Homo sapiens: one gene and its partners. The protein of the gene in region 1 purifies or fractionates together with the protein of each later gene. This does not show direct contact. Each region holds a gene or a part of one and is shown in the gene's direction. Other genes may lie near its edges. The genes, in order: GPR52, FITM2, ALG3 and AGPAT3.

Region 1 (6,370 bases):
TGTCTATTTTTGTTTTGTTGCCTGTGCTTTTGAGGTCTTACTCAAGTAGTCTTTGCCAAAACCAATGTCCTGAAGCATTTCCCAGTGTTTTCTTGTATTAGCTGCATAGTTTCAGGTCTTACCTTTAAGTTTTTAATCAACTTTGACTTGATTTTTGTATATGGTGAGAGATAGGAGTCTAGTTTTATTTTTCTGCATATGGATATCCAGTTTTTCCAGCAGCATTGATGGAAGACACTGTCTTTTCAACAGTGTATTTTCTTGGTGCCTTTCCTGAATTTAGGTTGACTATAAATGTGTAGATTTATTTCTGGTTTCTCTGTTCTATTCCATTGGTCTATGTGTTTTTATGCCAATATCATGCTGTTTTGGTTACTATAACTTTGTAGTGTATTTGGAGTCAGGTAGAGTGATGCCTCTAGCTTTGTTCTTTTTTCTTAGGATTGCCTTAGCTATTCAGGGTCTTTTGTAGTTCCATACAAATTTTAGGTTTTTTTTTTCTATTTATTTGAATGTCATTGGTATTTTGAAAGGGATTACATTAAATCTGTATGTTGCTTTGGGTGATATTGTCCTTTTAACAATATTAATTCTTCCAATCCATGAACATGGCATATCTTTTTAATGTGTTGTTTGGTTTGCTAGTATTTTGTTAAGGATTTTTGCATCTATGTTTCTCAGGGATATTGGCCTCCTATAATTTTTTTTGTTGTATGTGTCCATGTCTGCTTTTGGTATCAAGATAGTGCTGGCCTCACAGAATGAGTTTGGAAGTATTCTCTCCTCTTAACTTTTTAAGAATAGTTTGAGTGGAGTTGGTATTAGTTCTTCTTTAAGTGTTTGGTAGAATTCAGCAGTGAAGCCATCAAGTTCTGGGCATGTCTTTGATGGGAGACTTTTTATTATTGCTTCAATCTCTTTACTCATTATTAGTCTGTTCAGATTTTCTATTTCTTCATGGTTCAATCTTGGTAGATTGTATGTGTCCAGGAATTTAGCCATTTTTTCTAGGTTTTCCAGTTTGTTGGCATATATATTTTTCACAAGTCTCCAATGATCCTTTGTATTTCTGTGGAGTCAATTGTAATGTCTTTTCATCTTTGATTTTATTTATTTGAGTCTTCTTTCTTTTTTGCTTAGTCTAGCTAAGGGTTTGTTGATTTTGTTTATCTTTTCAAAAAATCAAGTTTTTGTTTTGTTGATCTTTTTATGTTTTTTAGGACTTTTAAGAATAATAATAACCTATTTCGGTCCCATTTTCACAAGTCTGTGATTATAGGCAAGTTATACTTACTATCTCTACTATCTGCTTTCTTCATTTGGAAAATGATAATGATGATACCTACTTCATAGAGTTTTAAGATTTTTATAAAGGAAAAGTATATAATGCACACAGCACAATGCTTGGCATATAGAAAATACTCAACAAATGTTAGTTATCTTCCATTTTTATCTTAATTTTCCTGGTGTATTTTAATTCTGACATAATTTGTAAATTAGTTCTAAGTCACTTTTAAGAAAAATGCTGATCCCCTAAGAAGTTTAAAATAGTGAATGTTTGTCTGTAGTAAGTCAAAATAATCAGAAATGTTTTAATGTCCATCAAATATTTGATTAAATTAATTTGCATTGTTCTAATTTAGGTATGTGTAGCTCAAGCACTTAGAACAAATTTCTTTGACCATTTGACCTTTTTTTTCATATTAGGATAAAAAGTGGATAAGCAATGTTTTTATTTATTCTAATTTCTATGCTCTTTTGAGATCATATTTGACCTTCAGTATTGCTCTGAATAGATTTTGGTACAGTAGTGTTAGTTCTATTGCTTTGTTTGTACAGTTAAATACATCAAACTCAGCAATTTTTTGTGGGGGTGATGGGGATTGGAGAGATTAGTAAATGATTTCTAAGTTCTGTTAATTAAAATGTAACTATATATTTTAGAGAGAAGTTAGTAGTCATATCACTTTAGTTCATGAAGACTTGGCAAATTTTTAATAATTAATAAGTTTTTTCTGCCAATGAGCATTAGATTACTGCTGACTTTTTAGTGTCATAGTACCTTGTGGTAGTTTCTTTACAGGGTTTACAGGAGTATGGCAGTTTATTTTTTCTGTCTTGTCCATACGAAATAATCTTTACAAATGCTATAAGGAGAATACCTTGAGAAGTTCATAAATGCCTTAATATATTATAAAGATCGGTCAGTTCCATTGTCTTCTTTTGTCAGTCTTGATCGGAGCTTGCCGAGTAAGTCTATAAGCCTGCATGTGCCTGGCAACTGTTACCTAGTGACAGTTTCAGCTGCAGTAGCCATTGGCTGTGCTGTTGATTGGGGCAGGAGGGCCGAGTCACCTTTCTGATGGTGAGTTTTTCTGCATCAGCCCAGGATGAGGAGGAGGAGTAGGGCTTGGGCTCAGGTGGAGTCATTGATGCTGAGAGATTGTGAAGAATATACTGACAGCATCCTTGTAGCTGCATCACAGTAAATCGGACTTCTGAATCAAGCAGCCCAGCCTAGCAGCTGATAAGAGTGAATGTAGGTGAGAAGCATTACCTTATTCCTGTAACAAGAGAACTGTTTTGTGATAAGTGAAACTAGGAATGTAGAAGAAGAAATATCCTATGGCTATTATAAAAGAAGAAGGACTTGCCTGAATGACTTGGTGGTGCACCAGAAAATAACTTTCAGAAGAATGCTTTCTGTTAAGCTGCTGCATTGTTCCTGGAGGAAATGTTATTTCTAATGCATGTTATTTCTTCAAAAGATAGGATAACAAAGAATGACAGGAGACTCTCTGAAATGACTTCACTTTTAAAAAATACTTTGGCAAATGTTAACCTGATATCAAAATGACCTTGGAAGCATTTTGGATGGATTCTATCCTGGCAGCCTTGCAATGTTTCAAACTCTAGGATTTAAAGTTCATCTTGATACTTTAGAGGTATTTTAAAATAAGACTATCTTGCAACCTACCTAATGGCCCCTGTGTTAATTGAGCACTTGCTCAAAATAGAGTACAGAAAAATAGAAGAGGCATTTTTTAACATATGGCTGCTACATAACTGCAAATGTAATAAACAAGGTAATTTTCCACTTTCAGAAGATATAGTTGAAGTAATGATTTAATGTGTTAAATCATCTACTGAAAATAGAAAAGGTATAGCAACATAGAACATGAAGCCTATTAGAAATACCTAAGTAATAAATAATGGCAGCATTTCTGGTCAAATAAGCTCGGAGTATATTGGAAAGTTTTATTGTCTAACTTTATATTTACATATATATGTGAGATATGGGTATACAGTTGCAAAGGTGAGAAATAACTGTGAGCTACATATTTTATTATCATGCTCCATTATAAGGAAGGTGGTATATGAAATAACAAATGTTATTTTAAGTTATAGATGCCAAATTAATAGCAAAAATAATTCATTTTGAAAAGGAAGAGGTATAAGTTACGTTGCTGTTAGTACCACCAGTAACTGTAATGGATTAAAACTGCTTTCATCTAAATGCTTTAAAAATGCATGCAGAATTAAAACTTCAGAAGTTTATTACATTTTGCCAGGTGTTAATTCATTAATTCATTGTATATTCTCTTTTCTATTGGAAAATACTTTTTTCTCATGAGAGTTATAGGGCAATCTGGAGTCTGTTTGTTACCTCTATTCTGCCCATGTAGAGATGAATCTTTTCAAATTAACTTTGATAGAGTTGTTTTTCTTAGATTTTAGAAAAATGAGAAATAGGTTATAAATTTGACCCCCCAACATCAATCCCTGAACTAAGCCCAAAGACACTCTTTGCCACAATGAACTTTTTCTTAGCTTTTCAACCAAATTTGAGATCTTAAATTATTTAAAATCTAAAATATGAATGCATTTTTCATCATAGATAAAGCAGGAAGCCTGAGACAGTTTCAGAGTTTTTCTTTTCTCATTCTTTCCAGTTGCTCCCTAAGAAACTGCCTCTCTTAGGAGAACAGCCCACAGAAGCTTTTCTTCCTTTGGCAATTCATTTTTTTTCTTTTTACAGATTTAATTTTTCATAGTGCAAGATAATAAGAAGTCTATTTTCTCTAGAAGTGCCTTATGTCTGCAAAAAGTTCTTTGAGGGCACCAGAGGAAACTAATTAGTGACCTCTTTTCACCTCCTTTCTAGCTTATCCCCTTCTCTCCACCCCTTACCGCCCCCCCCCCACCCCCCCGCCCGAAAGCTGAGGTGTGTCACTGCTGAACTGAGGCTGGTGAAGAGACTTGAGCACTCTCTGGGACTCTCAGCTGTGACAGAAGCACTGACACTGTCTACTGAAGCAGGTTCTGAAACACTCATGTGCGGTGTTTAACAGATGCTGGGCAGGGCATCTGCTTGCTGTAGCCAAGTCTGCAGGTGTCTTTAAATTTCCAAGCCATGAATGAATCCAGGTGGACTGAATGGAGGATCCTGAACATGAGCAGTGGCATTGTGAATGTGTCCGAGCGTCACTCCTGCCCACTTGGATTTGGCCACTACAGTGTGGTGGATGTCTGCATCTTCGAGACAGTGGTTATTGTGTTGCTGACATTTCTGATCATTGCTGGGAATCTAACAGTTATCTTTGTCTTTCATTGTGCTCCACTGTTACATCATTATACTACCAGCTATTTCATTCAGACGATGGCATATGCTGATCTTTTCGTTGGAGTTAGCTGCTTGGTTCCTACTCTGTCACTTCTCCACTACTCCACAGGTGTCCACGAGTCATTGACTTGCCAGGTTTTTGGATATATCATCTCAGTTCTAAAAAGTGTTTCTATGGCATGTCTTGCTTGCATCAGTGTGGATCGTTATCTTGCAATAACCAAGCCTCTTTCCTACAATCAACTGGTCACCCCTTGTCGCTTGAGAATTTGCATTATTTTGATCTGGATCTACTCCTGCCTAATTTTCTTGCCTTCCTTTTTTGGCTGGGGGAAACCTGGTTACCATGGTGACATTTTTGAATGGTGTGCCACGTCTTGGCTCACCAGTGCCTATTTTACTGGCTTTATTGTTTGTTTACTTTATGCTCCTGCTGCCTTTGTTGTCTGCTTCACTTACTTCCACATTTTCAAAATTTGCCGTCAGCACACCAAAGAGATAAATGACCGAAGAGCCCGATTCCCTAGTCATGAGGTAGATTCTTCCAGAGAGACTGGACACAGCCCTGACCGTCGCTACGCCATGGTTTTGTTTAGGATAACCAGTGTATTTTATATGCTGTGGCTCCCCTATATAATTTACTTTCTTCTAGAAAGCTCCCGGGTCTTGGACAATCCAACTCTGTCCTTCTTAACAACCTGGCTTGCAATAAGTAATAGTTTTTGTAACTGTGTAATATACAGCCTCTCCAACAGCGTTTTCCGGCTAGGCCTCCGAAGACTGTCTGAGACAATGTGCACATCCTGTATGTGTGTGAAGGATCAGGAAGCACAAGAACCCAAACCTAGGAAACGGGCTAATTCTTGCTCCATTTGAAGAGAGCTACATAGTAAATCAAATGTAATCTGACAGTGGTTTTGGATCATATTCTAGATTCATCTGGAAATTTGCCATCAGAGAAATATTTACTTGAATAGTTGACTGTAAAATGAAGTATGAGACTAAAGGTTTCTCTCTTTTTTTTTCTTTTTCATGGAAGAAACTAAAGGGAAGGATGTATAGAGGGTTAGCTCATGAAATAATTATAGCATGTGAGTATTAGTGTGCAGTAATAGGAAAAATTAAGCACTGAGATGAAAAAGAATATCTCAAATCTTCTGCAGGACATGAGCAAGCCCCTTGGCTCAGCATTTCTGTCTTTCTGTCTGACTGTACCCTGCCTCTGTCTTTCTCATTTTGTCTATGTTTCTCTCACTCTTTGTGGAAGTTATTACTTACATAAACTGCCCTTTGTAGAAAAGTGCTACATATTATATATGTGGTAAAGTATAATCTTTTGCATCAAAGTGTACCTTTAATCACACTAATCTATAATCCATAAGTGATCTCTTCATGGAGGATGCACAGTAAGCATTGCATTTTATTATTTGCCAAACAACCCCTTTGCTTGTGTTTTTATAATGTTCTCTGCAGCACAGTTTTTCTGCTATAAACAAATAGAAACAGTATTTTTGTTTCTTCTGGGTAAAATGACATTTGCTTTTCCCTGGTTTCCTAACAGTCTCCTGTTTTTTTTCTCTCTTTTTCTTGATCTGCATCCATTGGTACCTTACTTTAGAAGTGTCTTAGCTATTGAAAGAATCTACTGTATAGAGCATCCATGATGTTAAATAATGTATTTCTTCCAGCAAAGCAATCTGGTAGCTTATTAAATATTTTTAATGGCTTTTGGAAACATTTTTATCT
Region 2 (7,411 bases), on another chromosome or scaffold:
TTCTTAATGTGTAGCACATTATTTACAAATAATAAAATATATGGCCAGGCTTGGTGGCTTACACCTGTAATCCCAGCACTTTAGGAGGTTGAGATGTGCAGATTGCTTGAGCCCAGGAGTTTGAGACCAGCCTGGGCAACATGGCAAAACCACATCTGTACCAAAAAATGTACAAAAATTAGCTAGAGGTGATGGCTGATTTAGTCCGCCTGTAGTCCCAGCTACTCGGGATGCTGAGGTGGGAGGATCACTTGAGCCCAGGAGATTAAGGCTGCAGTGAGCCATAATCACACCACTGCACTCCAGCCTGGGCAACAGAGTGAGAACTTGTCTTAAAAAAAAAAAAAAGAAAGAAAGAAAAGAAATATATAAATACTCTTTGTTATAACTATAGCTAATTGATTCTCACAGAATGCTTTTATTGATTTTTGTTGGATTCTTGTAACCATAGGCAACCTGTGGTTTCAATTCAACCATGTTTTGACAAATGGAGTTGACTCTCAATGTAGACAAACCAAATAAATCCCTGATTTGTAGCACCTGCCAATTTCCATAGTGTAAATACTCCCCCTGTGGCTGATTTCAAGCTCTCAATGTGACATCACTGAATAGATTTGGGAAGAGTTGTGCAGGAGCTTACCATACAGGAACAATAGATGTAAGTTACCCCAAGAGCATAGATAATAATAAAACATAGTAAAATAATTAGTAACTAATGAGTTTTGAGTATTTTCAGTTTGTTTTTTTATATATGTAACTTTTTTTTTTTTTGAGAGAGGATTTTGCTCTGTTACTCAGGCTGGAGAGCAGTGGCATGATCACAGCTTACTGCAGCCTCAGTCTCCTGGGCTCAAGCCATCCTCCCACCTCAGCCTCCTGAGTAGCTGGGACTGCAGGCACACACCACCATGTTTGGCTAATTTTCGTATTTTTTGTAGAGATGGGATCTCCCTATGTTACCCAGGCTGGTCTGGAACTCCTGGGCTTAAGCGATTCACCTGTCTTGGCCTCCCAAAGTGCTGGGATTACAGGGGTGAGCCAACAGGCCCAGGCCCTATAATGCAGTTCTTAATATGGCTGTGTTTGACAATCACCCCGCAAAAGTTCTGAAAATTTAATCATCAGCTCTTGCAGGCTGGTATGAGTTGACTACAGCACATCATTTCACTCACAACATAAATATGTATTTCCCAATACTGATTCAATTTTTTTTTAAATACAAAAACTTCTCTAGAGACCTGCAACAATTTTTTCAGGTTGAGTTTAACCCAGTCTTCAAAAATCTCCAGCCATGGTGGCCAAGCGTGGTGGCTCATGCCTGTAATCCCAGCACTTTGGATGCTGAGGCAGGAGGATTGCTTGAGGCCAGGAGTTCAAGGCTACAGTGAGCTATGATCGCACCACTGCCCTCCAGCCTGGGAGTGCAGAGCAAGATCCTGTCTCAAAAAAAAAAAAAAAAAGAAAAAGAAAAAAAGAAAAGAGAAAATGGAAGGAAGGAAGGAAGGGAGGGAGGGAAAGAAAACTCTCCAGGAATGAAACTGCAGTTTCAAAGGAAACAAACCCATTTCCTTTCTCAAAAATACAAATCCTGAACCTTTCAGAAGGTACTCTTTGGACAGTCCCTCGGGGTGATATTTAGTGTTTATATTCACCGAGCAGTCTTTCCCTCCTTCTTGGGTTGGGGGACGTATCTGGATTTTCTTTGGAGGAACCACACAGCTAATAAGGAGGAGAACCGGCACTCAAACCCAGCATCCCTGCTCTTAATTCTTATGCTGTTTGCTAAGGAAAGCCACAGTAATTGAGCACCTGACAAACTCAAGGAGACAGAGATGGTATCAGATACTATTTACAAGCTGCCTTCATAAATAACCCCTTTCTGGCTATGTAGTTTTTATTCCCAATCATGAAATGCCAAATTGGTATAATTATCACTATATTTTATTTTTTAAACCAAGCATTCTGAAGGCCTGGAAGCATCTTGCTATATAAGAACTCTAATCAGATAAATGCAATTTACAGATATGAAGGTCATCTTAAGATGGTTTTAAGGAATTATTATTTTCATTAATTTGTTGATTCTCTGCATGAGACTATAAACATTAGTCCATTGTAGGCATAAATCAGGCTAACATTTCCCAGTGTGGTAGCTGTCCTTGGTATAGAGACACAAAATTATTTTGGGCAGCTAGTGATGATGAATATTTCGATAGAAATTTTTCTTTGGGCCGGGTGTGGTGGCTCACGCCTGTAATCCCAGCACTTTGAGAGGCAGAGGCAGGAAGATCACTTGAGGCTAGGAGTTGGAGACCAGCCTGGTCAACATGGCGAAACCCTGTCTAAAAATACAAAAAAATTAGCCAGGTGTGGTGGCATGTGCCTGTAGTCCCAGCTGCTTGGGAGGGTGAGGCAGGAGACTACCTTGAACCCGGGAGGCAGAGGTTACAGTGAGCCAAGATCAAAATAGCTTGGCCTCCCAAAGTGCTGGGATTACAGGCGTGAGCCACCACGTCTGGCCTAAAATGCCCATCTCTTGATATGACTATATATGTGTGTATTGGCTGGGTTTGTGGCTTTTGGAATAAACTTCTGTTGTTTAAAACAAGTTTAGGGTTGGGCACGGTGGCTCGCACCTGTAATCCTAGCACTTTGGGAGGCCGAGGCAGGAGGATCACTGGAGCCCAGGCGTTCGAGATCAACCTGGGCAACATAGTGAGACCCCATCTCTATTTAAAACTAAAGAAAAAAAAAGGAATAAAAATAAACTGAGTTTATAGTAATTTATTAGAGCTGCCACAGGAAACTAACATTGGGGTAAGGGAATGAGTCCAAGGTTGGGAACTGAAATAGACACCCAGCCCTAACCAGGGGTGAGGGGTTAGTTTTGTGATAAACTGAGCAACTGAGTCTCCAACAACTTCATGTGATCTCCCCATTAACCCCCAGCATCCAGCATTTTCATCCAACAGGCATAGATAGCTGTTTTGTGTTTCTTTGTGTGCTTTTTAAGACGGTCTCGCTCCGTGGCCCAGGCTGGAGTGCAATGGGACCATCACAGCTCACTGCAACCTCAAATTCCTGGGCTCAAGCAATCCTCCCACCTCAGCCTCCTGAGTAGCTGGGACCACAGGCCTGAGCCACCAAGTCAGCTAGTTTTTAAAATTATTTCTTATAGATACTGAGTCTCACTGTGTTGCCCAGGTGAAAATAAATTTAGAAATTTAAACTTTAAATGTAATAATTGCACCAGGTGAGATGGCTCACTCCTGTAATCTCAGCACTTTGGGAGGTGAAGGCTGGCAGATCACTTGAGGTTAAGATTTGGAGAGGTCAGATCACTTGAGGACAGGAGTTGGTCAGCCTGGCCGACATGGTGAAACCCCATCTCTACTAAAAATACAAAAATTAGCTGGGTGTGGTGGTGCGTGCCTGTAATCCCAGCTACTCGGGAGGCTGAGGCAGGAGAATCGCTTGAACCTGGGAGGCAGAGGCCTGCAGTGAGCTGAGATCGCGCCACTGCATTCCAGCCTGGGCAACAGAGCGAGACTATGTCTCTAAATAAATTAATTATATTAATTAATTAATTTAATAACTGCAGAGCGTGGTGGCTCACACTTGTAATTGCAGCATTTTAGGAAGCCGAGGCAGGAGGATCGCTTGAGCCCAGGAGTTTGAGACCAGCCTCGACAACGAAGCAAAACCCTGTCTCTACAGAAATAAAAATAAAAAAAATTAGCCAGGTGTGGTGGTGCCCGCCTGTGGTCCCAGCTACTCGGGAGGCTGAGGTGGGAGTATTGCTTGAGACCAGAAATTTGAGGTTGCGGTGAGCTGCGACGGTGCCATTGCACTCCAGCCTGGGCGACAGAGAGGGACCCCCCCCCAACTAACTAATAAATAAATAAATACAATAATTATTCCTAAGGAAACTTCATCTCATGTCCCTCTACGTGTGCCAACGTAATGAACCCCTGAGCTCATAAACTAGCTTTTGGGAAAGGTTGATCTCCTCTTGTCTCTCGCATTTTACAGATGAGAAAACTAAGACTCAGATGGCAGAGGTGTCTCCGAGGCTCCAAGAAAGATCAAATGATGCTGTGACTACTGCTCCAATTCTCCAGGGCTACATTTATCCTCTTCCAGCCTCCAGCAAATACTTTCACAAGCGCTTTTTCCCAGACCAGAGCAAGACGCGGAGGCTCGGGGAGAGGAGGCGGCCAGGAGAGCGCAGAGGAGACGAGCGAGTTCGGGGACCGTCACGCGCCAGAGGCAGCAGCGGCCACGAGGGGGAGCGCGCGGGCTCCGGAGCCCAAGCACGCCTCAAGCTGTGGGACTCGCGGGCAGTGCGCATGCGCTCGAAGGGAGGTGGAGGCGCAGGTCCGGGCGAAGGGCGATACGGTGGCCGAGAGGGCACGGAGAGGAGGACGGTGGCTGACGAGATCCGGCATGGAGCATCTGGAGCGCTGCGAGTGGTTGTTGCGGGGGACGCTGGTGCGGGCGGCCGTGCGGCGCTACCTGCCCTGGGCCCTGGTGGCCTCCATGCTGGCGGGCTCCCTCCTCAAGGAGTTGTCCCCGTTGCCCGAGAGCTACCTCAGCAACAAGCGCAACGTCCTCAACGTGTGAGTGCACCCCGGTCCTCCGCTGTCCCCGCCCGAGCCGGCCCGCTGTCGCCTCGCCCAGAGAAGCCGGTGCTAGCTGCCGTGGTGGACGAGTCATTGGAGGGGAGGTCCTCCTCCTAGCCGTGACAGCAGCATCTGCACGCGTGTCACGCCTGGGAGGCCCCGGGGTAGCTGGTGTCACTAGCAGTTAGTGTTTGCAGACCCACTTTGGGCAGCATGAGCTTGACTGGGCAGGTGGTGACAAGCGGGGTCGTGTGTGTCTCTGTATATGTAGGGGTGTGGAATGGGGTGGGGATGAACCAGCCCCTGTCACCACTCCCCCGCCTCCCCTTGGAGTTAGGAGCTGACCCCTGCCCTGTTTGGGAGATGCCATCTCACCTCTGTCCTGCCTGCCTGTGGCAGACCCCGCGCAGACCCCACCCTGCGTCAGATCAGATCCCTCCAGCGCGTGACAGAATCCCTTTACGACCTGTGGAAGAGCCTCGCCCCAGCCTGTGACAGGCAGAGCCCCCGCCTGTGAGATACTCACAGAGGGCTGGAACCCCCTAGTCTGTGCCCTTTCCCCTGGATCTCCTTGGATCATCTCAGCCACTCAGAATGCATGGCAGTGGCCCAGAAAAGCAATCCCAGCTGGGCGCTTTGAGACATCTCCTTAACTCCACCCATCCACTCCTTTGCTTGCTTACTTGCTTTTTTCAAAACTCCCGGTTAGTAAGTTTATTGCACAAAAACTCTGTTGCGGTCATAAAGGGAAACTCTGAAAGATAAAACTGCTCCCTTGATGTGAGCCTAAGTGTTTTCCAGAATAAGTGTCTCTGGCGTGTCCTGAAAGTCAGCCCAACTTTGGTTATCTGCTTAAAACCCTGGTTCCTTTCACAGGCAGCTTCCTCAAATGCCTGACGGGTCTTGGCTCTGGCAAGATCTTCCTTATCAGTCCCAGTGAAGATTTTAGTGACAGGCCTGGGGGTGGTGCCTGAGAATCCATTGGAACCTAGAAAAAAGTCCTTCTGTCCTTGGTCCACCTTCCTTCCTCACCCACCCTGAGAGGCTGGGCTAAGAATAGATCATGAGAGTGGTAGTGGCCCCAAGTCTCTGTCCTGGGTTTAGGTCAGCCACCTTTCGTGAACGCTGGGGAGGCGGACAAGGCAGCTGCTGCTTCCTCTGGCCTAGGTGAGCTGGGAGCCAAGTGGCCTGGCTGACAACACACCCCTGTTGTTTGAAGGTAGTCATGGATCCTGGAGTTTTGTTCCAAGCCTCTGTGCTGATTAATGAGAGGGAACTAGTGAATCCTGGGATATAGAAGGGACCTTAAAAATCATTTGGTCCTCTCAGCTCTGTTTGATAGCTGAAGAAACTGAGGCCTGGAAAGGTAGGAGGTATAGTAAGTTAAGTAAGAGTGAAGATTTGAACCCGTAAGAGTGAAGATTTGAACCCCGGTCTTTTGGCTTAAAGTAAGACCTTGTTGCAAGACTGTTTCTGCCGTTAGGAAAGAACCAGGCTGGGCGCAGTGGCTCACACCTGTAATCCAGGCACTTTGGGAGGCCAAGGCAGGTGGATCACTTGAGGTCAGGAGTTCAAGACCAGCCTGGCCAACGTGGTGAAACCCCATCTCTACTAAAAATACAAAAATTAGCCTGGCGTGGTGGTGCGTGCCTGTAATTCCAACTACTGAGGAGGCTGAGGCAAGAGAATCACTTGAACCTGGGAGGCGGAGGTTGCAGTGAGCTGAGATCATGCCACTGCATTCCAGCCTGGATGGCAGAGTGAGACTTTGTCTCAAAATAAATAAATAAATAAAAATAAAAATACAAAAATTAGCCGAGTGTGGTGGTAGGTGCCTGTAATCCCAGCTACTCCGGAGGCTGAGGCAGGAGAATTGCTTGAACCCGGGAGGCGGAGGTTGCAGTGAGCCGAGATCGTGCCACTGCACTCCTGGGTAATAAGAGTGAAAACTCTGTCTCAAAAAAAAAAAAATCATTTGGTCCCCCCAGCTCTGTTTAATAGCTGAAGAAACTGAGGGCTGGAGAGGTAGGAGGTATAATAAGTTAAGTCAGAGTCAAGAGTTGAACCCGTGTCTTTGGCTTAAAGTAAAGCTCATTGTTGTAAGACTGTTTCTGCCATTAGGAAAGAACCAGGCCAGGTGCATGGCTCATATCTATAATCCCAGCACTTTGGGAGGCTGAGGCAGGATAATTGCTTGAGGCCTGGAGTTCAAGACCAGTGGGGGCAACATAGCAAGGCCCCATCTCCACAAAAATAATAATTAAAAAAAATTAGCCAGGCACATTGGTACACACCTGTAATCCCAGCTATTTGTGAGGCTGAGGCAGGAGGATTGCTTGAGCCCAGGAGTTTGAGGCTGCAGTGAGGTGTGATTGTGCCACTGCACGCAAGCCTGGGGGACAGAGTGAGATCCTGTCTCAGAAAAATAAAAATAAAAAATAAAAAACCACATATGGTATGGGAGAAACAGCATGAGTCTGGGGGCTATCCAAACCGTGGTTTAATCTGTTCATGCTGGTTGTGTGAGTGTGACCCTGGCAAGGTACTGAACTTTTCTGAGCCTTAGATTTCTTGTCTATAAAATGGAACAATGGCACCTTCCTCCCAGGGTAAATGTGAGTGCTCTATGGGAAAGTGAATGTGTGTGAAAGCTCCTGGCATTTGGTAAATGCTCAGTTATTATTATTTATTTATATTATTTTCCTAAGTAAATAACATAGTGCTTAAGACGACAGATCCTGGATTTGAATCCTGGCTCCTCCGCTTCTGGCCTCCACTTTTGGTGTGGCACT
Region 3 (7,301 bases), on another chromosome or scaffold:
ATCCCTGGGTTTTGGTGTGTGTTTGCTTCTAATGGTGTACATCTGTGACTCTTCAGGCTGAAACTACCTTCAGGGAAACTTTGCTTCTTCCCTTTCTCTGTTCCCTCTAGCTCTTACCAATTCTCCTGGGAGCACATTCTTGACAAGTAACTTGGACATGAATCCTCATCTCAGGATTTGCTTCTGGGGAACTCAATCTAAGACAATGAGTGCAGGGGTTGCCAAATGCAGCTTGCCACCTATTTTGTTAGATAAAGTTATATTGAAACATGGCTATTCTCATTCACTTTTTTTTTTTTTTTTTTTTTTTTTGAGATGGAGTTTCACCCTGTCACCCAGGCTGGAGTGCAGTGGTGAAATCTTGGCTCACTGCAACCTCCGCCTCCCTGGTTCAAGCAATTAATTCTCTTGCCTCAGCCTCTGGAGTAGCTGGGATTACAGGTGCCTGCCACCACACCTGGCTGATTTTTATGTTTTTAGTAGAGACGGGGTTTCACCATGCTGGCCAGGCTGCTCTCGAACTCCTGACCTCAGGTGACCCGCCCGCCTCGGCCTCCCAAAGTGGTGGGATTACAGGCGTGAGCCACCCTGCCCGGCCATCATTCACTTTTGTATTGTCTGTAGCTGCTTTTCCACTACAATAGCGGAACCAAGTCATTGTAAAAGAGACTGTGTAGCCTGCAAAGCCTAAAAAATTTACTTGTTTGGCCATTTTCAAACAAAGTTTACAGACCCCTAACCTGGAGTAAGTCTCTTAGTACTTTTGACTTGTCTTCAGGGGTTGTCATAAGGATTAAGTAAGTTAGAAAGGGCCCAGCACATTCTCTGGCTCTTATCAGGCACTCAACTTAAGTCTGTTGAGGTGGAATGTAACGTAGAGTATTTCCCAAGTTGTGGGTCCTGTTCTTACATCTTGGGGATTCTAGAAATTCCCCTTTTGATTTTTAGACTTCTTGCCCCTCCTATCCAGAAAAGGATAGTTCCCAGTTAAGCAGATTTTTTTTAAAGCATCAGTTTGGTGAAAAACCAGTCAAGCAGATTTTAAGGCAGTGTTACTCTGCCAATCACCAGCATAAGAATCTGCTGTGAAGCTTGTTGAACATACAGATTCCTGAGACCCACATTAGACCATCCCTGGAATTAGAATCTCACAGTGCAGTCTAGTTCCCCAGGTAATTTTGATACACACTAAAGCTTGAGAAAACAGATCTAAGGTAAATCTATAAATAAGTGCAATGGTTTAAAATCACAGATTCAAGAAAGTGTTTACTTGTGGGGAGAAGGGGTTTTAGGAGGACCACACAGAGAACCTTGAATATACTTTTCATTTTGCCAGGCATTGTTCTAGGTATCCTTCATGCTCATTTAATCAACTTAAAGCCCAATTAATAAATATGCTTATGTTTTTAAGGTTGAGAAAATGGAAGCACAGAAATTCAAGTATTTTGTCCAGGATTACACAGCCAGTATAAGCCGAGCCAAGATTCCAACATAATTCACTGCCTCTGGAGTCCAAGGTGGTTTTTTGTTTGTTTGTTTTTTGTTTTGCTTTGTTTTGAGACAGGGTCTCATTCTGTCGCCTAGGCTGGAGCCCATTGGAGCCATCACAGCTCACTGCAGCCTGGATCTCCTGGCTCAAACGATCCTCCTGCCTCAGCCTCTTGAGTAACTCGGACTATGGGCACAGGCCACCATGCCCAGCTAAGTTTTAATTTTTTTTTTTTTTGAGACAGGGTCTTACTCTGTCACCCAGGCTGGAGTGGAGTGGTGCAATCTCAGCTCACTGCAACCTCCACCTCCTGGGCTCAAGTGATTCTCCTGCCTCAGCCTCCCAAGTACCTGGGATTACAGGCACGTGCCACCACACCTGGCTGATTTTTGTATTTTTAGTAGAGACGGGGTTTCACCATGTTGGCCAGGCTTGTCTTGAACTCCTGACCTCAAATGATCCACCCGCCTTGGTCTCCCAAAGTGTTGTGATTACAAGCATAAGCCACTGCTCTGGCCTAAATTTTTTGTAGAGATGGGATCTCACTATGTTGCCCAGGCTGGTCTTGAGCTCCTGCGATCAAGTGATCCTTCCACCTTGGCCTCCCAAAGTGCTGGGATTATGAGCATGAATCATGAGGCCAGCCCAGAGTCCAAGTTCTTTTCTTTTTTTTTTTTTTTTTTTGAGACAGAGTTTTGCTCTTCTTGCACAGGCTGGAGTGCAATGGCATGATCTTGGCTCACCACAACCTCCGCCTCCCTGGTTCAAGCGATTTTCCTGCCTCAGCCTCCCAAGTAGTTGGGATTATAGGCATGCGCCACCACACCCGACTAATTTTTTGTATTTTTAGTAGAGATGGGGTTTCTCCATGTTGGTCAGGCTGATCTCGAACTCCCGACCTCAGGTGATCCGCCCGCCTTGGCCTCCCAAAGTGCTGGGATTAATGGCGTGAGCCACCGCGCCCAGCCAAGTTATTAACCACTAAATTATACTTTTTTTTCTATCCCTAGTAATGTTCTATTTCTCAAACTGAGTGGAATAGACACACACATTAGATTTGTTATTTATACCTTACATATATATTACATATACCTTTTTTATTTATTAAAGACTTCACTTAAACATACAAAGGCTTTTACAAAGAGCAAAGTAAAAACGACAATTGGAAGAAAATCTGTTGCTCATTCAAACTTTACTAGCGCCTCCAAGGCTGACACTAGGAGAGAACCTCAAGAGGTCAGCCGAACACCCCAGAGCCCTACCTTTCCTCCAGCACGTCTCCCTTTGGGGAATCGTATCACCCTGGGCGGCAATCTCCCCTCCACCCCTAGAGGGTGCTGTTCTCACTCTCTAAGGCATAGGACCAAGTTTCAGACAGGACTCTCTCTAGGTGACTCTGGCTCCCAGTGCCCAGGGGCAAAAAGAAAAGCGCTGGGCATTATTCTCGAGGTGCCTGCGCGTGCCGCCTCCGATGTGAACTCGCAGTACCATTTCTAGAACTGAATCTAAAGCTCAGAACGGGTTCATGACTTGTCCTAAGTTTTACAAGTCAATTAGCGCTAGGACTTGATCTCGGTCCTCTGAGCAATCCGGTCCCCAAGGCTGCCTGCCTCCCGAGGGTCCGGACAGGGTCTTGGGTACCCCCAACGCTCAAACTCTGAGGGACTGTCTTTCTCCAGAGGGCCCCGGGACCAACAATCTCTTACTCCTGTTAGCCTTGACTAAATACAGCCGGGACTCTGAAGGAGCTGGATCTCGCGTCCCAACGCAGGCGTCCTCCAAGAGGGATAGACAGGCGGGAGGAAAGCGGACCAGGCCAAGCCCATGCGGCGCCGGTCCTGCCAGCTCTACCTGGCGGGGCCGCGCCGGGATTACCCACCTAGCACAAGGATACGGTCCTCGGGCCGCAGCTCCGGCTCTAGGAGGGCACGGAAGGAGGAGAAGTCCCCGAACCAATCGTAGGGGGCAGAATCGGCTGCGCCTTGGTAGCGCTGATCCCAGTACTCGACTTCGCGGTACCCGCAGTTCCGCTCCGGTAACTCCGGAGGCGCCCTACCTGCCCCTGGAGAGGCCATGCTCTCAACCGCCGGGCAGCCAGAGCCGCCGGCCCTTCAGCCAATACGGAAGGCAGGATGCAGAAGGCGGGGCGCTGGTGTCTCCGCCCACCACCTGCAGTTGCTCAACACAAACACGTGGAACTTCCGTCCTTTACTAAGCGCTCTTCGAAGAATCCTCCGGCTGGGAAAACTATCGTCCAGACCCTGAATCCTCCGGCTGTACTGCCAAGTCATTTCCTAGGGCCGCACTCAAGGTGTCAGACTCACGTGGGCTCATCACTGCGTCCTCTCATATTTTCAATATGAATGACTTTTATCAGGAAATCTGAAAATTAGTGAAAGGTTCATTTTTCTCAGCATCCGGAAGGCTCGAAGGGCAGGCAGGAGGGGCGCGAACAGGGGCTTTGCCCTCCTGGAGAGACAGCATGAACACAGATGTTCCCAGCGCAGGCGAAGGAGAATGCTGGCTTCAGCGGTTGTGGGGGAGGTAGGCAGGAATGTTGCTTTTCTGGACATTCGTTCTAAATTAGCGCCTGTGTACCCAGGGCTGGGTATAAACTGAGGAGTAAGACATTGTCCCTGCTCCTATGGAGCGTGGAGTGCATCAGAGGAGACAAATGCAGAAAAATTACATTTTAGTGGAGTAAATGAAGACTGGCTACTCGGATCGGCGCTTAGCCTGGTGGGACGCCAGGCACGGGAAGCGGAACCTAAGTGTCGAAGGTTCGGGTTTCCGGGGGTGGTGGGCCCACACAAGCGGCGCACCGTTAAGATGGCGGCTGGGCTGCGGAAACGCGGCCGGTCCGGTTCCGCGGCCCAGGCAGAGGGACTCTGCAAGCAATGGCTGCAGCGCGCCTGGCAAGAGCGGCGCCTGCTGCTGCGGGAGCCGCGCTACACGCTGCTGGTGGCCGCCTGCCTCTGCCTGGCGGAGGTGGGCATCACCTTCTGGGTCATTCACAGGGTGGCATGTGAGTGCGCCGAGGGGGAGGGGAGGGGAGGGAGGGAGACCTGAACCCGCGACCCAAACTGGATCTCAGACCTGGAACTCCAAACCAGACTCTGTATCCACTCACTCGTCAATTGCGAACCCATCCATATCCCTTACCTGAGCGCCAAGCCTGCTCTACAGAAAACCGGATCTTAATCTGCCCGCATGGCAGAGGTGGATACCCTAGAGATTGGCCTTCTGCACTGAACTTACAGCCTGCAAACCAGCTTAGAAGTCAGATTTGAGCCAAAATTGTTGTACTGCTGCTGCTGCTGCTTTTCTCTGTGGCTTTGGACACCTCAGGTCTCCTCCTGGATCTCAGCTTTTTCCATGTGTTCAGTTCTGTGATCTTTGAACGTCCCTTCTCAATGATGGCATCTTGTGACCACTTGAGTCCATTAGGCATTATTGGCTACTCCTTTCCAGGCTGAAACTATACTCTAGGCTTAAGGCACTTGGCTTTCTTGCTAAAGACTCTTAATTCAACAAATATTTATTTAGTGCTTATTATATGCCTAGCATTATGCTGGTTACCAGAGAGAGGTACAGTGGTGAATAAGAGATGCATTTCTGCCGGGCGCGGTGGCTCACGCCTGTAATCCCAGCACTTTGGGAGGCCGAGGCGGGCGGATCACGAGGTCAGGAGATCGAGGCCATCCTGGCTAACACGGTGAAACCCCGTCTCTACTGAAAAAAAAAAAAAAAAAAGAATTTAGCCGGGCATGGTGGCGGGCGCCTGTAGTCCCAGCTACTCGGGAGGCTGAGGCAGGAGAATGGCGTGAACCCGGGAGGCAGAGCTTTCAGTGAGCCGAGATCACGCCACTGCACTCCAGCCTGGGCGACAGAGCAAGACTCCGTCTCAAAAAAAAAAAAAGAAAAAGGATGCATTTCTAACTCGGGCCTGGACAGTAAGTTAGCAGGCAATTATAATGCATCATAATCATGGTAGTAGTAACACAGGATACCATAAAGGGCATAGGAAGTCACTTAAACCAGGTTGGAGGAGTCAGCAAAGGCTTCATAGAGCCACCCTTGGAAGGTAGGAATTAGCTATTTAAGGAAAGAAGAAAAAGGTGAGGGGAAGGAGTGCTGTGGACAGAGGATCCTCTATTAAAAATCTCCAGCTAGGCTGGGCGCAGCGGCACACGCCTGTAATCCCAGCACTTTGGTAGGCCTAGGCGGGTGGATCTCCTGAGGTCAGGAATTTGAGACCAGCCTGGCCAACATGATGAAATCCTGTCTCTACTAAAAATACAAAAATTAGCTGGGCGTGGTGGCATATGCCTGTAATCCCAGCTACTCGGGAGGTTGAGACAGGAGAATTGCTTGAACCCGGGAGGTGGAGGTTGCAGTGAGCCGAGATTGCGCCACTGTACTCCAGCCTGGGTGACAGAGCAAGCTCCGTGTCAAAAAAAAAAAAAATTCAGTTAGACTGGGCACGGTGGCTCATGCCTGTAATCCCAGCACTTTGGGAGGCTGAGGTGGGCGGATCACTTGGGGGCAGGAGTTAAAGACCAGCCTGGCTGGGCACGGTGGCTTATGCCTGTAATTCTAGCACTTTGGGAGCCCGAGGCGGGCAGATCACCTGAGGTCAGGAGTTCAACACCAGCCTGGCCAATATGTTGACACCCTGTCTCTACTAAAATAGAAAAATTAGCTGGGCATGATGGCAAGTGCCTGTAATCCCAGCTACTTGGGAGGCTGAGATGGGAAAATGGCTCGAACCGGGGAGATGGTGGTTGCAGTGAGCTGAGATCGCACCACTGCACTCCAGCCTGGGTGGCTGAGCGAGACCCTGTCTCAAAAGAAAAACAAACAAACAAACCAGCCTGGCCAACACGGTGAAACCCCATCTCTACTAAAAATACAAAACTTAAAAAATTAGCCAAGCATGGTGGCACACACCTGTAGTCCCAGCTACTCGGGAGACTGAGGCAGGAGAATCACTTGAACCCGGGAGGCGGAGGTTGCAGTGAGCTGAGATCGTACCACTGCACTCCAGTCTGGGTGACAGAGTGAGACTCTGTCAAAAAAAAAAAAAAAAGAAGACAGCCTGGTTCCTTTGAGGAACTGAAATGATTTTTTTAGAGCTAGAGTGTAGAAATCAAGTGAAGGGAGTAGTAAGAGATGGGAATGCAGAAACTGAGGCCAGATCATGAAGGAATTTGAAAGCTTTGTTAAGAAGATAGCATGATAATTAAGAACTTGGGACCCTGCAAGCTTCAATCCCAACTCCACCATCCTAGCTCAATTATCTTAAGCCAGTCACTTAACCTAATTAATTCTTAGGCTCCCCTTCAAAAAATGGGAATAATACAGAGTTTTCTTTATCTTAAGGGTCTTGGGGAATCATTGAGAGGTTTTAAGCAGAGGCCTGTTATGATTTGTATTTTAGGAGGAGCTCTTTGGTGTACGAGGTGGAAAATATATTGTAGCAGGGTGAAAGTAGAAGTCAGGAGCCTAATTAGCAGGCTATTGTATACTCATTGGGGCTAGAGATTACTTTAGGCTCAAATTTGAGTATGTAGTAGCAGAGAAGGATGAGATAGAGATATTTACGGTGAGGAACAGGCAGAACTTGTTGACGAAGGGTTGCAAATGAGAGAGGAGGGAGTATCAAAGATGTTACTCAGGTTCGTGACCTGGTAGCTAAGAGGTCGGTGGTGCCATTTGCGGAACCCAGGAAAAGGAGTAGATTGGAATGGGAAGAAAGATCACAAATTCACTTATAGAAATGTTGAGTTTGAGATGCCTGGGCTCACCCAGA
Region 4 (7,025 bases), on another chromosome or scaffold:
CATGTGGGGTTTGTGATGTGGTGTGTGTGTGGTGTGTGGTTTGCGGTGTGTGTGGCATGTGTGTGGCATGTGTGGGGTTTGTGATGAGCTGTGGTGTGTGGCGTGTGTGTGGTTGTGTGTGTGTGGCGTGTGTGTGGTATGTGTGTGGCATGTGTGGTTTGTGGTGTGTGTGTGACGTGTGGTTTGCAGTGGTGTGTGTGTGGTTTGTGGTGTGTGGCGTGTGTGTGGTTTGCAGTGTGGTGTGTGTGGCATGTGTGTGGTTTGTATGTGTGTGGCACGTGTGTGGGGTTTGCAGTGTGCTGTGCAGCATGTGTGTATAAGCGTGAGGCATGTGCGGGGTGTGCAGTGAGCAGTGCCCCGGTGTTCCTGTGAGGGTGTGGGCGTGGCCACCCTGACGCTGTCCCTGTCCCTGTCTTTGCAGGACGGCTGTCCTCAGCGAGGGGCCGTGCACCCGCTCCTGAGCAGCGCCATGGGCCTGCTGGCCTTCCTGAAGACCCAGTTCGTGCTGCACCTGCTGGTCGGCTTTGTCTTCGTGGTGAGTGGTCTGGTCATCAACTTCGTCCAGCTGTGCACGCTGGCGCTCTGGCCGGTCAGCAAGCAGCTCTACCGCCGCCTCAACTGCCGCCTCGCCTACTCACTCTGGAGCCGTGAGTGTCTGCTGGGCCAGTCCCTGCCGCCTGGGGCTCCCGTGGGGGTGGCGCGCGACCATGCACGGGGCAGCCGTGGGCTCTCAGGCAGGAAGTGAGGGCTATGCAGGAGGTGCCGAGGCCATCTGGCTGGCAGGCTGTCGGAAGGCACCTGGCTACCTCTTTTTCTTAGCTTGAGCTGTGTGACGTGCCACTCTCACCATTCTGACCCATAGCAATGGCAGCTTCCCACGGTTTACCAGAGCATATGGGAATGTTTAAACAAAAGTAAAGAGAATGTTGAGTTCTGTTTACCCGTTACCAAGCTCCAACAGCTCCCTACATGGCCCCTCGTGTGTCCTGCCCACACTGCGCCAACACCAGAGCATGCTGACGCGTATTTCAGCATGCATCCCTGAAAGAAAAGGTGTCCTGCCTCCCTGCGTATCAAACACATGTGTAGCTGTGTGTCTGTCCGTATGTGCCTCTGTGCGTATGTGTATTATACATAGAGAAACCGATCTGTACCTGTCATGTGGACAGAGACTCAGAGGCTTGGTAACAACACCCACTGTGGACAGGTAACCGCTCACACCGGGCGTCGTGGGGACATGAACAGGCGCATCTCTGGAGGGTGGTTTGGCAGTGGCCGTCAACAGTTTAAGTGGTTGCAATTTTCAACTCAGCAATTCCACAGAATAACATGCAACCTACAGAGATGTGCAAAAGTATGCAACTGGACAGGTGTTCTCATTTTATCACAGGTATTCTCATTATTGTATTATTTTTATAGTAGCACAAAACTAGAAGCAACCCAAGCACCTGTCACTGGAGACTAATTATGCGGCACCCATACAGGGACCCTCTGCGGCCATCATGGAGAGCCTTCATCTTGCCCGTACAGTTTTAAGCGAAAAAGGAAGTATACAACAAAGTCCATAGTATGCTATGATTCATTTTGTGTCTTAAGAAAGGATGCTGTGTGTGTGGTGTGTACATGTGTGGAAAAATCCCAGAAGGGGCTGGGCATGGTGGCTCATGCCTGTAATCCCAGCACTTTGAGAGGCTGAGGCAGGTGGATCACCTGAGGTCAGGAGTTCAAGGCCAGCCTGAGCAACATGGTGAAACCCTGTCTCTACTAAAAATACAAAATTAGCTGAGCATGGTGGTACACACCTGTAATCCCAGCTACTCGGGAGGCTGAGGCAGGAGAACTGCTTGAACCTGGGAGGTGGAGGCTGCAGTGAGCTGAGATCACACCACTGCACCACTCCAGCCTGGGCAACAGAGCAAGACTCTGTCTAAAAAAAAAAAAAAAGAAAACAAAAATCTCAGAAGGATGCCCGAGAAAACTGCGTGATGCTGATATCCAGGGAGTGGGGAAAGGAGGGGATTCTTACGTTTTATTTCACACTCTCATGCTGTTTCCATGTTTTTGCATGAGCGCATAGACACTTCGTCTCATATGGGAAACGGTGAGCGCATAGACACTTTGTCTCGTGGGAAACGGTAAGCGCGTAGACACTTTGTCTCACGTGAGAAATGGTGAACCCACATACACTTTGTCTCATATGGGAAACGGTGAGCGCATAGACACTTTGTCTCATGTGGGAAAGGGTGAGCACGTAGACACTTTGTCTCATATGGAAAACAGTGAACGCGTAGACACTTTGTCTCGTGGGAAACGGTGAGCGCGTATACACTTTGTCTCATATGGAAAACAGTGAGCGCGTAGACACTTTGTCTCGTGGGAAATGGTGAACCCACATACACTTTGTCTCATATGGGAAACGGTGAGCGCGTATACGCTTTGTCTCATGTGGGAAATGGTGAGCGCATAGATACTTTGTCTCATGTGGGAAATGGTGAACCCACATACACTTTGTCTCATATGGAAAACGGTGAGCGCGTATACACTTTGTCTCATGTAGGAAATGGTGAGCGCATAGACACTTTGTCTCATATGGGAAATGGCTGGCCTGTAACCTTGTCTGCACGATCTCCTTCCAGTTCAGGAGCCGGTAGCACTGCTGAAAAGGCTGTTTATGTCAGCTAACTTTTCATGCCTGCGACACCCCACTGTCTGCAGAGAGACTAGTAACCCAGCCCTTAGACTAGCTTGTCTTAAATGTGTTATAGCTTCAGTTCCTGGTTTGTTTTTTCTCTTTTTTTTTTTTTTTGAGACTGAGTCTCGCTCTGTTGCCCAGGCTGGAGTGCAGTGGTGCGATCTCGGCTCACTGCAAGCTCTGCCTCCTGGGTTCACGCCATTCTCCTGCCTCAGCCTCCCGAGTAGCTGGGACTACAGGCACCCGCCACCACTCCTGGCTAATTTTTTTTGTATTTTTAGTAGAGACGGGGTTTCACTGTGTTAGCCAGGATGGTTTTGATCTCCTGACCTCGTGATCTGCCCACCTCGGCCTCCGAAAGTGCTGGGATTACAGGCGTGAGCCACCGCGCCCGGCCAGTTTGTTTCCTTTTTTAAATGAAAGGCTGCTGCTTTTTTCTGTGGGAAGGGAGAATTGGAAATCCTATAATATAAAATATACAAATGAGTTATTCATGAGTATAACTGGATAAGATGAATACATACAAAAAGGGCAAATATTAACTGATGAAAACTAAATTACAGACTCCTACTTTCTAGCAGTATTCTGAAGCTAAAATACTACAAAACAGCTAAATCCTGCCTGAAACTGGCTTTTTAATGCATTTCTGGGCTCACAGTAAGGAAACAAAAACCTCTCAGCTCCACCCTTCCACCAAATCCCTTTAGCAAAAACCGGGGTGTGCAGAAATGGAATGTCAGCACTGCCTTTCAGGAGCCTAACCCTTGGGCAGCTGTAGCAGAGGGCGCTGAAGCTAAACCAGGACTCTTGAGCGAGGGCGCGAGACAAGCTAGGGTTAACAGTGACCCTTGGGTTTCAGCAGAGGCAAACGAAAGTACACTCTGGAGAAAGTCTCATTCAGGCCTGAAGAATCCCACAGATTAAGGAAAATTAAATATGAATTCATAATCAAGAATGACAACGTAAACAGCAGATGTGGACTGAAGATGACCCACTGTGCCCCGACTTGAAAGAGAACCAAGTAGAACTGCTCTCAGTGAGAACTGTAGATATTTTAAAGCAAAAACTTACAGACAGGTTTTGTATCAGATTAGATACAGTTAATGAGAATGGGTACAGAACCAAGTAGAACTGCTCTCAGTGAAAACTGTAGATATTTTAAAGCAAAACCGTATGGATGGATTTTGTATCAGATTAGACACAGTTAATGAGAGAATGGGTACACCAGACATCAATGTGAAGAAATCATCCAGTGACAGTAAAGGAGGTGAAAAATGTGAAATAGGCGTGAAAAGATGTAAGGACAGAATGAGAACCTTCATAAAATAGGGCTTTGGCCCCCATCCCCAAAGGAGAGAACAGGAGAAGCCTCCTGGGAAGAGAGGATGCCTGAGGACCTCCTGAACTGATGAAGGCACGATTTTTCAGATACAGGAAGCACATGTAGACCAAGCAGAGCGAATGCACAGAAATCCACACCTAGGCAGGCCCTGGGGCATCACAGACCATCAGAGACAAGGAGGAGCCGGGCGCGGTGGCTCACGCCTCTAATCCCAGCATTCCAGGAAGCTGAGGCAGGAGGATCCCCTGAGGTCAGGAGTTTGAGACCAGCCTGGCCAACATGGTGAAACCCCATCTCTACTAAAAATATAAAAATTAGCTGGGCCTGGTGGCACATGTCTAATCCCAGCTACTGGGGTGGCTGAGGCAGGGGAATCATTTGAACCTGGTCGGTGGAGGTTGCAGTGAGCCGAGACTGCATCACTGCACTCCAGCCTGGGTGACAGAGTGAGACTCTGTCTCAAAAAAAAAAAAAAAAAAAAAAAGATAAGGAAGTCTTCGAATCCCCGGAGAGGAAAGCTGGAGAACCACGCTGGATGGTCAGCAGTGAGGCCGACAGCAGATTTCTTACGGCAGGCAGCAGTGGCGGGAGAAGGTGGAAGATCCTCAATGTGCTGGAAAATCACCAACCTAGCACCCTGTGTTGTTCAAGAGTACAAATAAAATAAAAAGGTTTTGGTAAACAAAAAAATGAGAGCTTTTACTGCCCATAGATCTTCACTTCAATATTTTTTAAGGATGTGTTTCAGTAAGAACAAAAATTATAAAAGTAGGGTATAATTTTCAAGAAAGAATGGTAGCCAAAGAAATTAGGAGATGGATGAATCTAAACCGTATGTAAAATAAAAACAGTGCTCAGCCGGGCGCAGTGGGTCACGCCTGTAATCCCAGCACTTTGGGAGGCCAAGGTGGGCGGATCACCTGAGGTCAGGAGTTCAAGACCAGCCTGGTCAACATGGTGAAACCCCATCTCTACTAAAAATACAAAAATTAGCCTGGCATGGTGGTGGGCACCTGTGATCCCAGCTCCTCAGGAGGCAGAGGCAGGAGAATCGCTTGACCCTGGGAGGTGGAGGTTGCAGTGAGGTGAGACTGCACCACGCTCAGCTAATTTTTTGTTTTGTATTTTTATTAGAGATGGGGTTTCACCATGTTGCCCAGACTGGTCTCAAACTCCTGACCTCAGGTGATCCGCCCACCTCGGCCTCCCAAAGTGCTGGGATTACAGGCGGGAGCGCCCAGCCCAGGTTCAGATTTTAATGGTAACTTTGTTAAGTATAGGGTAGGAAAAAAGAGAGATCAAACATAGCTTCCAAAGTATTAGAAAAAGATAAAGAAAAAAAGGTAAATCTCTTTTGTTAATGCAAGAAAGTAGAAAGAAAAGCATTAAAATAAGAAATATTGAGGTATACATTAAGATCAATATAAAATTCCCAGATACTTGGGATGACCACAAATACACAAGAAAAGCACTTCAGTAAGAACAGAAATAATCGGCCTCTCCATCTGCTGGGCTTGCGTGGGTATGTGAATTCCGTCTGTGACTTGTTGGATTTGGGATGTTCTCCACTTAGATTTATTTCCATGAATATGTTTGTGGGAGCCTTTCTGCAGTCAGAGGTATGTGGAAGCCTTTGCCAGTTCAGGGGCGCATGGTGAGAGCAGACCTCACAGTGGGTTTGTTTATGTTTGTTTGTTTTTGAGACAGGGTCTTGCTCTGTCGCCCAGGCTGGAGTGCAGTGGTGTGATCTTGGCTCACTGCAATCTCTGCCTCCTGGGCTCAAGCAGTCCTCCTACCTCAGCCTCCTTGAGTAGCTGAGACCACAGGTGTGCACCATCATGCCCAGCTAATTTTTGTATTTTTTGTAGAGACAGGGTTTTGCCATGTTGCCCAGACTGGTCTCCAACTCCTAGGCTCATGTGATCCTCCTGCCTCAGCCTGCTGGGCTGCTGGGATTACAGGCTGAGCCACCGCACCAGCCACAGTGTTTTCTGATGACCCTGAACCACGGTTTTATTTTCAATTCTTCATTCCTGTTCTCATTCCTTAATGCTGGGTGCCTTCTTGCTGCCCATTTTGAACTCACTGCCAGTGTGTCTCTGCTGTCATCTGATGTGCAGAGCTATAGGTGCTGCGGCGAAGGGTGCAGGTTTGGAGCCGTTTAAACAACCTGGCCCAGCCTCCTCACTCCCTGCTGACCTTGGTCAAGGCTTCAGTCTCTAAACCTCAGCTTTCTCATCTGCAGAGCACAGACAAAACCACCTGCCTTTGAGCTGTCTTATAAAGCCTAAATCAATGCGCACAGCAGGTACACAGCAATGCTTGATAAATTGTTACTATTATTGGGTGAATTTTAGGTTTTTTTTGTTGTTGTTGTTGTTTTGAGACAGAGTCTCTCTGTTGTCCTGGCTGGAGCACAGCAGTGCGATCTTGGCTCACTGCAACCTCCATCTTCTGAGGTTCAAGTGATTCTCGTGCCCCAGCCTCCCAAGTAGCTGGGATTACAGGTGCCTGCCACCACATCCAGCTAATTTTTTTTATTTTTAAGTAGAGATGGGCTTTTGCCATGCTTCCCCAGCTGGTCTTGAACTCCTGGCCTCAAGTGATCCTCCTGTCTCGGCCTCCCAAAGTGCTGGGATTACAGGCTTGAGCCACCGCACCCGTCCAGAATTTTAGATTTTTTTAAATCCGTGGTTGAAAAATAGGCTATGGCTGGCTTACTCATTGTGCTTTAGGGAAGCATGTATTTGAGTGAAGGAAATGATAAAAGGAATTTCATATCGGGCCCAGGCGCCGCCCACCCTGCAAGACAGTTTACAGATGCCTGCCCTGACAGCTGTCTGCAGTTAGCCAGCGTCAGCCGAGGGGTCCTGAGATCCGCTGAAGGCTGCCTTTGCATGCCGACAGCAAGGGAAAAGTGCCACATGTCCCTGGGCTTGCCACAGGTGACCTTTGGATGGGACCATTCTCCAGACAGCGCAGCTCGTCTTT

Evidence for each region.
Region 2: the proteins of GPR52 (region 1) and FITM2 purify together in Homo sapiens (affinity purification with mass spectrometry; 3 studies listed by BioGRID and IntAct, with this or other methods). This does not show direct contact.
Region 3: the proteins of GPR52 (region 1) and ALG3 purify together in Homo sapiens (affinity purification with mass spectrometry; 2 studies listed by BioGRID and IntAct, with this or other methods). This does not show direct contact.
Region 4: the proteins of GPR52 (region 1) and AGPAT3 purify together in Homo sapiens (affinity purification with mass spectrometry; 3 studies listed by BioGRID and IntAct, with this or other methods). This does not show direct contact.

The regions. Positions count from the first base shown.
Region 1 is NC_000001.11:174,443,698-174,450,067, forward strand, and holds GPR52 (G-protein coupled receptor 52), read left to right. Parts: upstream 1-4,266; 5' UTR 4,267-4,414; coding exon 4,415-5,500; 3' UTR 5,501-5,848; downstream 5,849-6,370.
Region 2 is NC_000020.11:44,308,181-44,315,591, reverse strand, and holds the start of FITM2 (acyl-coenzyme A diphosphatase FITM2), read left to right. Parts: upstream 1-4,389; 5' UTR 4,390-4,443; coding exon 4,444-4,616; intron 4,617-7,411. UniProt on the Homo sapiens protein: Fatty acyl-coenzyme A (CoA) diphosphatase that hydrolyzes fatty acyl-CoA to yield acyl-4'-phosphopantetheine and adenosine 3',5'-bisphosphate.
Region 3 is NC_000003.12:184,245,958-184,253,258, reverse strand, and holds the start of ALG3 (dol-P-Man:Man(5)GlcNAc(2)-PP-Dol alpha-1,3-mannosyltransferase), read left to right. Parts: upstream 1-4,296; 5' UTR 4,297-4,318; coding exon 4,319-4,514; intron 4,515-7,301. Other genes in the region: EEF1AKMT4 (EEF1A lysine methyltransferase 4), read right to left, coding at 3,369-3,564; EEF1AKMT4-ECE2 readthrough transcript protein, read right to left, coding at 3,369-3,564. UniProt on the Homo sapiens protein: Dol-P-Man:Man(5)GlcNAc(2)-PP-Dol alpha-1,3-mannosyltransferase that operates in the biosynthetic pathway of dolichol-linked oligosaccharides, the glycan precursors employed in protein asparagine (N)-glycosylation.
Region 4 is NC_000021.9:43,959,213-43,966,237, forward strand, and holds part of AGPAT3 (1-acyl-sn-glycerol-3-phosphate acyltransferase gamma), read left to right. Parts: intron 1-421; coding exon of another isoform or gene 422-469; coding exon 470-647; intron 648-1,419; exon of another isoform or gene 1,420-1,567; intron 1,568-7,025. UniProt on the Homo sapiens protein: Converts 1-acyl-sn-glycerol-3-phosphate (lysophosphatidic acid or LPA) into 1,2-diacyl-sn-glycerol-3-phosphate (phosphatidic acid or PA) by incorporating an acyl moiety at the sn-2 position of the glycerol backbone.